3 linked regions of the Homo sapiens genome follow. Changing the gene in region 2 together with the main gene of any one other region gives a genetic interaction. Each region holds a gene or a part of one and is shown on either strand. Other genes may lie near its edges.

The links.
Region 1: changes in IGF2BP1 (region 2) and MOGS together harm fitness less than expected from each alone (positive genetic interaction), as found in Homo sapiens cells (one large-scale study listed by BioGRID).
Region 3: changes in IGF2BP1 (region 2) and HDAC8 together harm fitness more than expected from each alone (negative genetic interaction), as found in Homo sapiens cells (one large-scale study listed by BioGRID).

Annotation. Positions count from the first base shown.
Region 1 is NC_000002.12:74,463,193-74,467,019, forward strand, and holds the start of MOGS (mannosyl-oligosaccharide glucosidase), read right to left. Parts: upstream 2,191-3,827; 5' UTR 2,056-2,190; coding exon 1,704-2,055; intron 1,531-1,703; coding exon 1,304-1,530; intron 195-1,303; coding exon 1-194. UniProt on the Homo sapiens protein: In the context of N-glycan degradation, cleaves the distal alpha 1,2-linked glucose residue from the Glc(3)Man(9)GlcNAc(2) oligosaccharide precursor in a highly specific manner.
Region 2 is NC_000017.11:49,045,885-49,049,384, reverse strand, and holds part of IGF2BP1 (insulin-like growth factor 2 mRNA-binding protein 1), read right to left. Parts: intron 3,496-3,500; coding exon 3,364-3,495; intron 3,126-3,363; coding exon 3,012-3,125; intron 34-3,011; coding exon 1-33. UniProt on the Homo sapiens protein: RNA-binding factor that recruits target transcripts to cytoplasmic protein-RNA complexes (mRNPs). This transcript 'caging' into mRNPs allows mRNA transport and transient storage.
Region 3 is NC_000023.11:72,485,638-72,489,364, reverse strand, and holds part of HDAC8 (histone deacetylase 8), read left to right. Parts: intron 1-323; coding exon 324-432; intron 433-3,727. UniProt on the Homo sapiens protein: Histone deacetylase that catalyzes the deacetylation of lysine residues on the N-terminal part of the core histones (H2A, H2B, H3 and H4).

The sequences.
Region 1 (3,827 bases), on a different chromosome or scaffold from region 2:
CCATACTTGGGGGCTGTATCCCCTGGACTGGTTGGTGGCAAAAGTGTAAAGCGGAAGTCACCAAGTTCACTGGTGTGCCCACTGATAAACTTCAACTGCCCCTTGGCCCCAACCTCTGGTAGTAGGACTTCCTTGCCATCTGTCACCACATAGAAGAACAGGGAGACCAAAGGGAGGGCAGAAGTACCTGAGTCCTGAGTGACCAACGAGGACAGAAAAGAACAGTGTTAGATTGGCATTCTCTCTTGAATTCCCTCTTGAGAATCAGCCTTAGTGAGGGAAAGGAACAGTAGGCAGGGGTAATGTAAACAACATACGTCTGGCAGTAATGAGGGTCACTGAGGGTAACCAGGTACACCCAAGCGGGATGAGATAAAGAGCCTTGCACTGGGTGCCCTGGGAGATAACAGTATACTTTTGTACTATGTCCTACACTAAGAACTCTACACAGTTGATTTCATTTAATTCTTTTTTTTTTTTTTTTTTTTTGAGGCGGAGTCTCGCTCTGTCGCCCAGGCTGGAGTGCAGTGGCGCGATCTCAGCTCACTGCAAGCTCCGCCTCCCAGGTTCACGCCATTCTCCTGCCTCAGCCTCCCGAGTAGCTGCGACAATAGGCGCCCGCCACCACGCCCAGCTAATTTTTTGTATTTTTAGTAGAGACCGGGTTTCACCGTGTTAGCCAGGATGGTCTCCATCTCCTGACCTCATGATCCGCCCGCCTCAGCCTCCCAAAGTGCTGGGATTACAGGCGTGAGCCACCGCGCCTGGCTTTTTTTTTTTTCTTGAGATGGAGTTTTGCTCTTGTTGCCCAGGCTGGAGTGCAATGGCACGATCTCGGCTCAGCGCAACCTCCACCTCCCTGGTTCAAGCAATTCTCCTGCCTCAGCCTCCCAAGTAGCTTGGATCACAGGCATGCGCCACCACGCCCGGCTAATTTTATATTTTCAGTAGAGACGGTGTTTCTCCATTTTGGTCAGGCTGGTCTGGAACTCCTGACCTCAGGTGATCCGCCAGCCTCGGCCTCCCAAAGTACTGGGATTACAGGCGTGAGCCACCGCGCCCAGCCTCTTTTTCATTTAATTCTTACAGTCCTGTGAGTTAAGTGCTATTATTATCTACATTGTACATTTTACAAGCAAGGAAATCAAGGCTTAGAGATGGTAAATAGAAATGGTTATACAGGCAGTTGTTTAAGGCAGGATTTAAGCCAGGCAGCCAGAGCCCACTTCATGCTGCATTTGCTGGCAGCAAGGGAAGGATGGAGGGGGTCTGGGCTGAGAAAAGGGTGTCCTGAGGCCCTGACCTGAGGCTCTACAGTCACTCTCCAGCTCCAGTCCCCTCCGTGCTGACCCCCAGGCCTCTTGACGAACTCAGTGGTGAGCCTTAAGGCCCCATCCTGGATGTGTTGGCGCCCGAAGGAGAGGCCGTCGTGGAACTCCCAGCCATAGGGACCCACACCGTCCCCCTGCTCACACGTGTGCCTGAGCTTAGGAGTCCCCGGGGTGGTGCCCTGCTGCGCCCACATCAGTCCTGGGGGTAGAATGGCCACGTAAGTCAAAGAGCAGGGGACCTGTCCCTCCGGGTCTCCGGGTCATCCCTCTTCATAACTCTCCTGATCCATTCCTTCCCACCCTTGCTCTCGCTTCAAGCTGGGGCGCCCAGATTAGGAGTCCGCCTGCCTGCCCGCCCTGGGGCCCGGTTACCGGTGAGGAGGGGCTTCGGGCTGCGGGTCTTCATGCCGAAGTAGACGTGAGGGCGGTAGGTTCCCCAGAAGAGGTCCGGGGCCACGGCGGGGCTGGAGGAGTCGGCAGGCAACACAGGAGGCGCGGAGTGCAGCGTGACCGCCCGCCGCGCACGGTACCACGCCAGCACCCAGCGCCCCGACATACCCAGGGCCAAAGACAGGACCACGACGGCCAGAGCCACTCCTCCAGCCGTGCTACGCGGCCCGCCGCCCCGGCCGTCCCGTCGCCCGGGGCCTCCCCGAGCCGCCCTCTCGGCTGTCCGCACTCCCTCTGCCGGCACTGCGCGGCGCCGCCGCTCGCCCCGAGCCATCCTGGCACTGAGGTCCGCGTCACAAGAGCTCGGAGAGGCGGCAGTGGAGCCCGGGTCCTGCCTCACCTCTCCGGCTCCCGCCTCTCGCCCTGGCGACCACCGTCCGGTTAGCGACACCTGCCAGCCAGCGCCTGCGCCTCCGCCTCCGCCTCCCGCCGGAAGTCCCGCCCCGCCACGTTAGGTTAAGTCCCAGAGTCCGGAACCGCTGCCTGCGGCTTGACACAGGGTTGGTACGTAGCGTCTGTCCTGGGCGTTGGTCCACCGGGATTGCGTTTATCTGGCGACCCCATGGAGTTCACAGGCTCGGAAAAACCAATCTAACGTTGGGCTGAGGCATGAGAATCGTTTGAACCCGGGAGGCGGAGGTTGCAGTGAGCCGAGATTGTGCCACTGCACTCCAGCCTGGGCGACAGAGCGAGACTTCGTCTCAAAAAAAAAAAAAAAAGACTGATGTGGCCAGGCACCGAGGCGCACATCTGTAATCCCAGCACTTTGGGAGGCCGAGGCAGGTGGATCACCAGACATGAGGAGTTGGAGACCAGCCTGGTCAACTTGGTGAAACCCCATCTCTACTAAAAATACAAAAATTAGCCGGGTGTGGTGGTGGGTGCCTGTAATCCCAGCTATTCGGGAGGCTGAGGCAGGAGAATTGCTTGAACCTGGGAGGCGGAGGTTGCAGTGAGCCGATATTGCGCCATTGCACTCCAGCTTGGGCAACAAGAGTGAAACTGTTTCAAAAAAAAAGAAAGAGAGAGAGAGAGAGAGATGGAGGGAGGGAGGGAGGGACGGAGGGAGAGAGAGAGAGAGAGAGAGAGACTGATGCTTTATGCAACACGACCACTTATATTTCACTATAATCTGACTGGTGGCCCCACTCTCCACTAGTGGTAGACTTTTTGCTTATGAAATCATCTGACCAAACCCAATGGTTAGTCCTGTTTTTGTCTTTCTTGCTACCGTTGCATTTGTCGACATCCTTATTGTAGCACTTATTACATACCTGTTTCATTTTTCATCTTTGTATCACAGTACTAATCAATTATAGGCATAAGGCAGATGCTAAATATTTATAAATTCAACACATGTTTATTGTACACCCTATATCGCATTATGCAAGGTGCTGGGGACTCAGAGAAAATGGCCCCAACCTCAAGTTCACAGTCTAGAAGCACAATGCCAGCACTCAATGCATGTTGAACCATACCCATTTTTTTTTTTTTTTTTTTTTTGAGACGGAGTCTCGCTCTGTCACCAGGCTGGAGTGCAATGGCATGATCTCGGCTCACTGCAACCTCTGCCTCCAGGGTTCAAGTGATTCTCCTGCCTCAGCCTCACGAGTAGCTGGGATTACAGGTGCCCACCACCACGCCCAGCTAATTTTTGTATTTTTAGTAGAGATGGAGTTTCACCAGGTTTGCCAGGCTGGTCTCGAACTCCTGACCTCAGGTGATCCACCCACCTCGGCCTCCCAAAGTGCTGGGATTACAGGCGTGAGCCACCGCGCCTGGCCAGACCACCCCCATTTTTACAGATGAGGAGAGTAGTTAAGACTGACCCAAAATAACAGCCAGTTAATTATGGAGCTGGGGAACTCAAATCCAGGTTGTTCTTTTGACTTTAGAATAAGGCCTCTTAGGGCAGGCGCAGTGGCTCAAGCCTGTAGTCCCAGCACTTTGGGAGGCAAAGGCGGGCGGATCACCTGAGGCTGGGAGTTCGAGACCAGCCTGACCGACATGGAGAAACCCCGTCTCTACTAAAAAATACAAAATTAT
Region 2 (3,500 bases):
GGCCAGGATGTCTCGGATCTTCCGTTGAGCCATCTGCAGCAAGAACAGGCAAGAGAGTGGGTGTGAGACCTCCAAGGAGACAGCCTTCCACGGAAGAGAGGTCATCAGGTCCAGACACAGGCAATAAACAGAACAGGTCACACAGGACTCAGAAGAAAGATAAAGAGGAAGAATGAGGGTTGGGGTGACCTTACATTTCTTTGCCTCCAGTGGAGCCTGAGTATCCCCTGGAAAATACAGCAAACGTGGTGGGTGTTAAGTGGGAGATGGGGTTGGGGGACTTGAAGGAAGGAGAAACAGTAGTATCAATCCATTCATCAGAATTTAAAACTTGACAAAGTTGATAAACATTACCAAACGCAAAACAGAATGCCTAGAGTTTCTAGGCAGAAATATATTACATATTGCAGAGCAGTGGTCCCCAACTGTTCTGGCACCAGGAACTGGTTTCATGGAAAACAATTTTTCTTCCACGGATGGAGGTGGGGGTGGGGAAGTGGTTTCAGGATGAAACCTCAAATCAGCATGCAGTAGATTCTCATAAGGAGTGTGCAACCTAGATCCTTCACATGCACTGCGCATCCCTCGAGCACTTCACAACAGGGTTAGCCCTCCCATGAGAATCTAATGCCGCCCTGATCTGACAGGAAGCGGGGCTCAGGAGGTAATGCCCACTCGTCTGCCGCTCACCTCCTGCTGTGTGGCCCGGTACCAGTCCGTGGCCCGGGGTTTGGGGACTCCTGTTGTAGAGGGTCGTAACTTAGAAGACATCATCACAAATCCACGCTTCATTTTAATACCCCAGGAAAAGGAATAATATGTCTAGATATGGCCAGGTGCACGGTGGCTCATGCCTGTAATCCTAGCGCTTTGGGGAGCTGAGGCGGGTGAATCACCTGAGGTCAGGAGTTCGAGAGCAGACTGGCCAACACGGTGAAACCCCATCTTTATTAAAAATACAAAAATTAGCCGAGCGTGGTGACGTGCGCCTGTAATCCCAGCTACTTGAGTGGCTGAGGCAGGAGAATCACTAGAACAGGGGAGGCGGAAGTTGCAGTGAACTAAGATTGTGCCACTGCACTCCACCCTGGACAACACAGCGAGACTCCATCTCAAAAAAAAAAAAAAGTAAAAATAAAAAATAAAGTCCAGATATGGGTTAGTCAAAAAGCATAAATACATAAGCTTCACTGTAAAAATGGACAAAATACCCAATCTTTTATTATTTCCTTCTTAAAAGGTTCTTCCCTAAGAATAAAGTTTTATAAAGGAAATAAACTGCAAAATGGGATTCACTTCATAGAATGAAGACCAGAATGTCTCCTTTCCATAAATGAGTGCTTCCTTTCCTGGTTAAAGAAGCAGCTGAGGCTGGGCATTGTGGCTCATGCCTGTAATCCCAGCACTTTGGGAGGCTGAAGCAGTGACATCACTTGAGCCTAGGAGTTTGAAACCAGCCTGGGCCACATGGTGAAACCTCATCACTACAAAAAAATACAAAAATTAGCTGAGCGTGGTGGTACCTGCCTGTAGTCCCAGCTACTTGGGGGGCCTGAGGTGGGAGGATCACTTGAGCCTGGGAGGTAGAGGCTGCAGTGAGCTGTGGTCACACCACTGCCCTCCAGCCTGGATGGCAGAGCGAGACCCTGTCACAAAAAAAAAAAAAAAAAGAGGAAGTTGATCTAGGTTGGGAAAATAATGTGTAAGTCAATAAGAGGTCCAACTCCATCAACCCTGGCTTGATGTTTTACATAGCTTTTCATTTAATTCTCATTCTGATCAGCTAAAATTGCTTCAGTGTTTAATATTAATATATCCTGGCTTTATGCATCTTTGGAGGTATCCTTTACTCTCTTTAAAAAAAAAACGCTGAATTAAAGATTCACATTTACCCTCTTAAGCTTCATTTATAAAATGAAATTGTTGTGGGAATTAAATGAGTTAATATACATAAGCCACATAAAACAGTGCTGGGTATACAAAGGCATCGATAAATCTTAGATATTATTATTATTATGGCTCTTATTAATACTTTTTTGTTATTTTATATATATATATAGTTGAGATGTAACTAAAGCCTCTTGTTAATACTTCTCAAAGGGTTATCAGAGAAAGTTACTTATCCAAGGTCACATAGCAGAAAGGCTATGTATGTGAAGTTTGAGGTCAAAGCTCCCTGGATCCAAAACCTTCATACTTGATGCTATACTATATGGGCACTGGAAGCCAAAAAACCAAGAGCCAGTTTGCCCCAATTGCTCTAGCAGCCCCAGCAGACCACAAGCCTGCTAAGATCTGGATATCTTCTATGAATTGTAGGAACTGTGATCAACAGTCTCCAAAGTTCCTTTCCAGTTCTAACAATGATGGATTTAAGACTTTAGGAAAACACCATTAGCTGCCAACCACCTGTTTGCTTGCCTTGCTGAGGTTCAGCAAAATTTGAACCTGATATTGGCCTTCCCTTCCATGCTCTGGAGCCTGTCCGAGTGCTGAACGGCAATGATGAGTTCTGGGAAAGGAATGGGAGGGTGGAAGAGCAGAAACCAGGGAGAGAACAGCCATTCTGCGAAAGGCAGAGGGACTACATTTCAAAAATGCCATCAATCCAGGGTGTTAGTACTGTTATCATTATTCCATGAACAAAACTAATCTTCTTTCTTAACCAGTGCAGAAAGGGGTTAGGGAGGGACTAACGTAGAACATATATATATATATTTACATATAATATATATTCATATATATGTTATTTATATATATAATGTTATACACAATATATGTACATTAAACTTGTCAAATCACTTTTCCTAGAGAGTAATAAGAGGTAATATGTCATCTACACATCCCACTTCTGCACCTGAAAGAGGGCAATAACCTAGCCTAGAGGCAGGCAGATGTGGCTGAGGCCCCAGGACTTGTCAACGTCATGAAGGTCAACCTCTATAGAGTCTCTGCTTCTCTGCTCCCTGGGCTCCTGCAGCCCTCCCTCAATGGGGGAGCACCATATGTACCTGACTGGCATAGAAATGTCCGATGATTTTCACGATGACCTGGTCGTTCTCATCAGGGGTCTGGTCTCTTGGTACTACCACCTCAGCTGCCGTCAAATTCTGCAACTCGTTCACCTGGGGGTGGCCAGAGAGGAGCTCAGGGTGCCATCAAGAAAGCATGGGTGGGGTTGGAGGGAGGAGCCAGGGTGACTAGTGGGGAGAACCTGGAAGAGTCAGGACCTGAGCTTGGGGAGTAGAATCAAGTAAATGAGCAAATCAGGAGTCCTGAGGTTGAGCAGTACAGGAGACCAGAGAGAGCTGCTGAGATTGGAGACCAAGGCCCAGGGCTTTCAACCTGGCCCTCACAGCTCACCGTTTTTCCACCTTTGCCAATGACCCGGCCAGCTGCTGATGCTGGCACACGTATGTGGGTCTCCAGCTTCACTTCCTCCTTGGGACCAAAGAAGTTCTCCTCCTTGAGTTTGCCATAGATTCTTCCCTGAGCCTGAG
Region 3 (3,727 bases), on a different chromosome or scaffold from region 2:
TTACTATACTAGTAGACACCCCATGCAACTCCTAACATCCTGAATAATTGCAGTGATAAATTGATGTTATGTCAACCTAAAAAGCATGAAGCCAAGCAAAGGAGTTAATCTCTTATTTTTTCATTTGATCCAGTAAGGTGAAAACTGAGGTTTTTCAGTTTCCTTATGATTTGCCTGCTTCTCCAAGATTGTTTACAATACTTACTTCTTTATATAATTTTTCTTAATTTCTTTCCCTAGAAATTTCCCTATCAGGAAATCCTTTAAGTTTTCTGGGTTCTCATGTTCCTAATAACTGATCATAGTGCTCTTCTCTTTTATAGGAACAGGTGACGTGTCTGATGTTGGCCTAGGGAAGGGACGGTACTACAGTGTAAATGTGCCCATTCAGGATGGCATACAAGATGAAAAATATTACCAGATCTGTGAAAGGTATGGCAGTAACACTAGCCAGTAATAAGTGGATTGCAGTTCTGTAGGATGAAATGGCCCCCATCTCACAATGTAAACAAGAACAATGTAAAAAAGAAAACATCTATATACCTATAAAGCTTTTGTATACTGGTCATTATGCTTATTTGATCAGTAGCTATCCGCTGTATGGCAGAGCCAAGCAGTTGGACCAGAGCCATGCTCCAGGTTGGATCTTACTCAATATGATTAAGCCCATCCCAAGAGCAGAGCTTTTTTTGCTATCCTGAAGAATCCCTTATTTGCTACTTTCTTAGCTAAATAAACCTACATGTGTCTTATTTCATTAACCTGGCAGGGTTCATTTCAGTTGTCAGGGTTCATTATGGAGACCTGTGCTTTCTTCTACTGGTGTAAATATTAGAGAATTGACTATTATTATTCATCATGCATTCTTACCTTCTATCCACTGTGTTAAAATTGGAGTCAGATACCTGTTCTTTCTACACCATGGCTAAGGATTAAGTTACAGACAATCGTAGACAGACAGATTGGTGCCAATGTGTGGACCACTAGAGTTGAAAAGCCTTATGGAATGGGGGTGGGGGGTTGTGTTAAACTCATATTCATAAAAATTGAGATTGGTCAGGCACAAGTGGTGGCAGAGAAAGCAAATCCGAATAGAAGTCAGCCAGTCAACATTACTGAAGGTAAGTAACGGGGATTGAGGTACTCTTGATCCCTCCCCAACTTAGCTCGTATTTCTCCCAACCTCTGGTGGAGGTTCTTCCCAAAGAAGCCTGCCTGCACTGGCCATCATCACTGGCAGTTGTATAAACAAAGCAGAACTATTAAAAAATAAAAACTTTATGCTTCAAAAGTGCTTCTTAGCTCAAGAGATTTGGTGAGCCAAGTCATCATTCAGTTATTCAGCAGCATAAGCCTCTTCATAATTTTGATCATGTCTCCTGGCTACCTCTGTATTATCATGCTGAAAAAACTTTTTTTTTTTTTTTTTGGAGCCTGCCATCAATGGTTTAATTGCCCTTCTTTGTTCCCCTTAAGCTCTCTTCTGTCCTTGAGATGTGCAGATCAGAGCTGCTTATGTAACTTTACCAATAAAGATATCCTGCAGTTCTATGTAAAAGGAGAATTATTTTGTTTTTCTTTTAATCCCTTTCTTAACAGTGCCTGATTTTGTTACCCTTTTTTTTTTTTTTTTACCATAACAGAAAACTAGGTTGTTCTCTTCAGTGCACTGTCCACAGTGTCTCCTCGAGCCCTTTCCTGGGTCTTAATTGAAAGGTCAGCACTCATCATCCAGCAAGTATAGTTTGTAATATCTAGTGCTCCCTAGATGGATCACCCTAAATGGATCACCTTACATGTACCCCTTACAAAGCCCTAAATGGATCACTTTACATGTGCCCCTATTGAAGGTTATCTGCCAATCATAAAACCTCCTGAGATCTTCTTTATCTCCCATCAACTTGGCATTTCACTGCCTGGGAAAGCTGAGTATTATCTGTAGACTTGAGGATTTTCCAGTGCCCACCCCCAAGGAAGTCTATTTATCCTTCTTCAGTCAGAAAAAATATCTGTTTCTACCCTATATTTTCTCTTTTTTTTCTGTAGACCAGTTCCTACTACATGATAAAAAATATTTTAAATCCCATGGTAATTCATGTTTAAAAATAGCCTTGGTATCAAACCTAATCAGAAGCATTTTTAAAGTAAGTTTAGCCCCAAGGAAAAGATCTGTAGAAGATTACACATGATTTCGCTTTACAAAAAGCATGATGCCACCCACATCCCAATAGATTGATGGCTTTTGTGTACAGGAGGCTAGCATTTATTAAAAATTCTTCCAGCTTGCCTACTGAAGAACCAGACACTCATCAGTTTATAGTTCCCAGGGCCCCTTTGCCTGTGGACCCACATTGGCAATGCAAGCCACACAGTGATCATCCAGAATAACAGGTTCCAGGTTTTCATTAGAGGTATAATAATTTTTTTTCTTTGCTTTCCTTCAGAAGTCAAGTCTGGTCAGGGCATTATGTGAAGGCACCTCTGATTCCAAGGGTACCAAGGAGGCTTCCTGGCCCAAACATCTCTCCTATCTGTTGGATTAATACCTGAAATTCCTTTAACAGGAAACATACTTTTATTCTACAATTAGAAATAGTCCTTAAAACGAAATTTTGGCACAACCTCTCATCCTCACCCCTGCTGTACTATAGAAGTATAGTTTCACAGAACCTTTCTTTTTTGGGGTTGTGGACAGGGTCTTCCCCTGTTGCCCAGGCTGGAGTGCAATGGCATGATCACAGCTCACTGCAGCCTTGACCTCCTGGATCCAAGTGATCCCCTTGCTTCAGCTTCCCAAGTAGCTGGGGCAAACAGGCACACGATACCACATCTGGCTAATTTAAAAAAAAGAAACTTTTAGTAGAGATGAGGTGTAGCTTCACAGTGCCATTCTTGAGAATGAATTGTGAAAGGGTCAGAGCATGAGCTCCTTGAGTATTCTGAGGAGCAGGAATTGCCTAGTGGAGCAGTAGAGGGAAAGGGGTACCAAAAACCACAGCGATCTTTGCCAAGAGTTTTGCAGAGGGCCAGCCCTGGTAACTAGATCACTCAGTCCCAGGCATTATGCCTTTGAATACTTCTGGTATGTGGCTTGGAAACAGTCTCTTACACATTTGCCATTGTTACCTCTGACCCTTCTGCCTACCTCAAAAGATATATTACACAGAGGAATGGCTTAATCTTTTTGTAAAAAGTCATTTAGTTTATCTACTATCTTCTTTTCATCCTTTTATTTTATTTTATTTATTTATTTTTATTTTTTTGGAGATGGTGTCTCACTCTGTCGGCGATCTAGGCTCACTGCAAGCTCTGCCTTCCGGGTTCACGCCATTCTCCTGCCTCAGCCTCCCCAGTAGCTGGGACTACAGGCGCCTGCCACCACACCCGACTAATTTTTTTGTATTTTTAGTAGAGACGGGGTTTCACCGTGTTAGCCACTATGGTCTCGATCTCCTGACCTCGTGATCCACCCACCTCGGCCTCCCAAAGTGCTGGGATTACAGGCATGAGCCACCACGCCTAGCCCCTTTTCATCCTTTTTATTTCATGACCCCACTGGTTCTCTGGCTCACTCCTTACTTGTGATGTGTAAAGGACCTCTTATTGCTGGTTCACTTATAAGATGCTCTCATTTTTATTTGCCACCCAATTTCTAGTTTGCTCATAAATTGCTCCTTTTTCCTTTTCCTTCTTTCTTTCTTCTTTCTTTTACTTTTCTTCCTTCCTT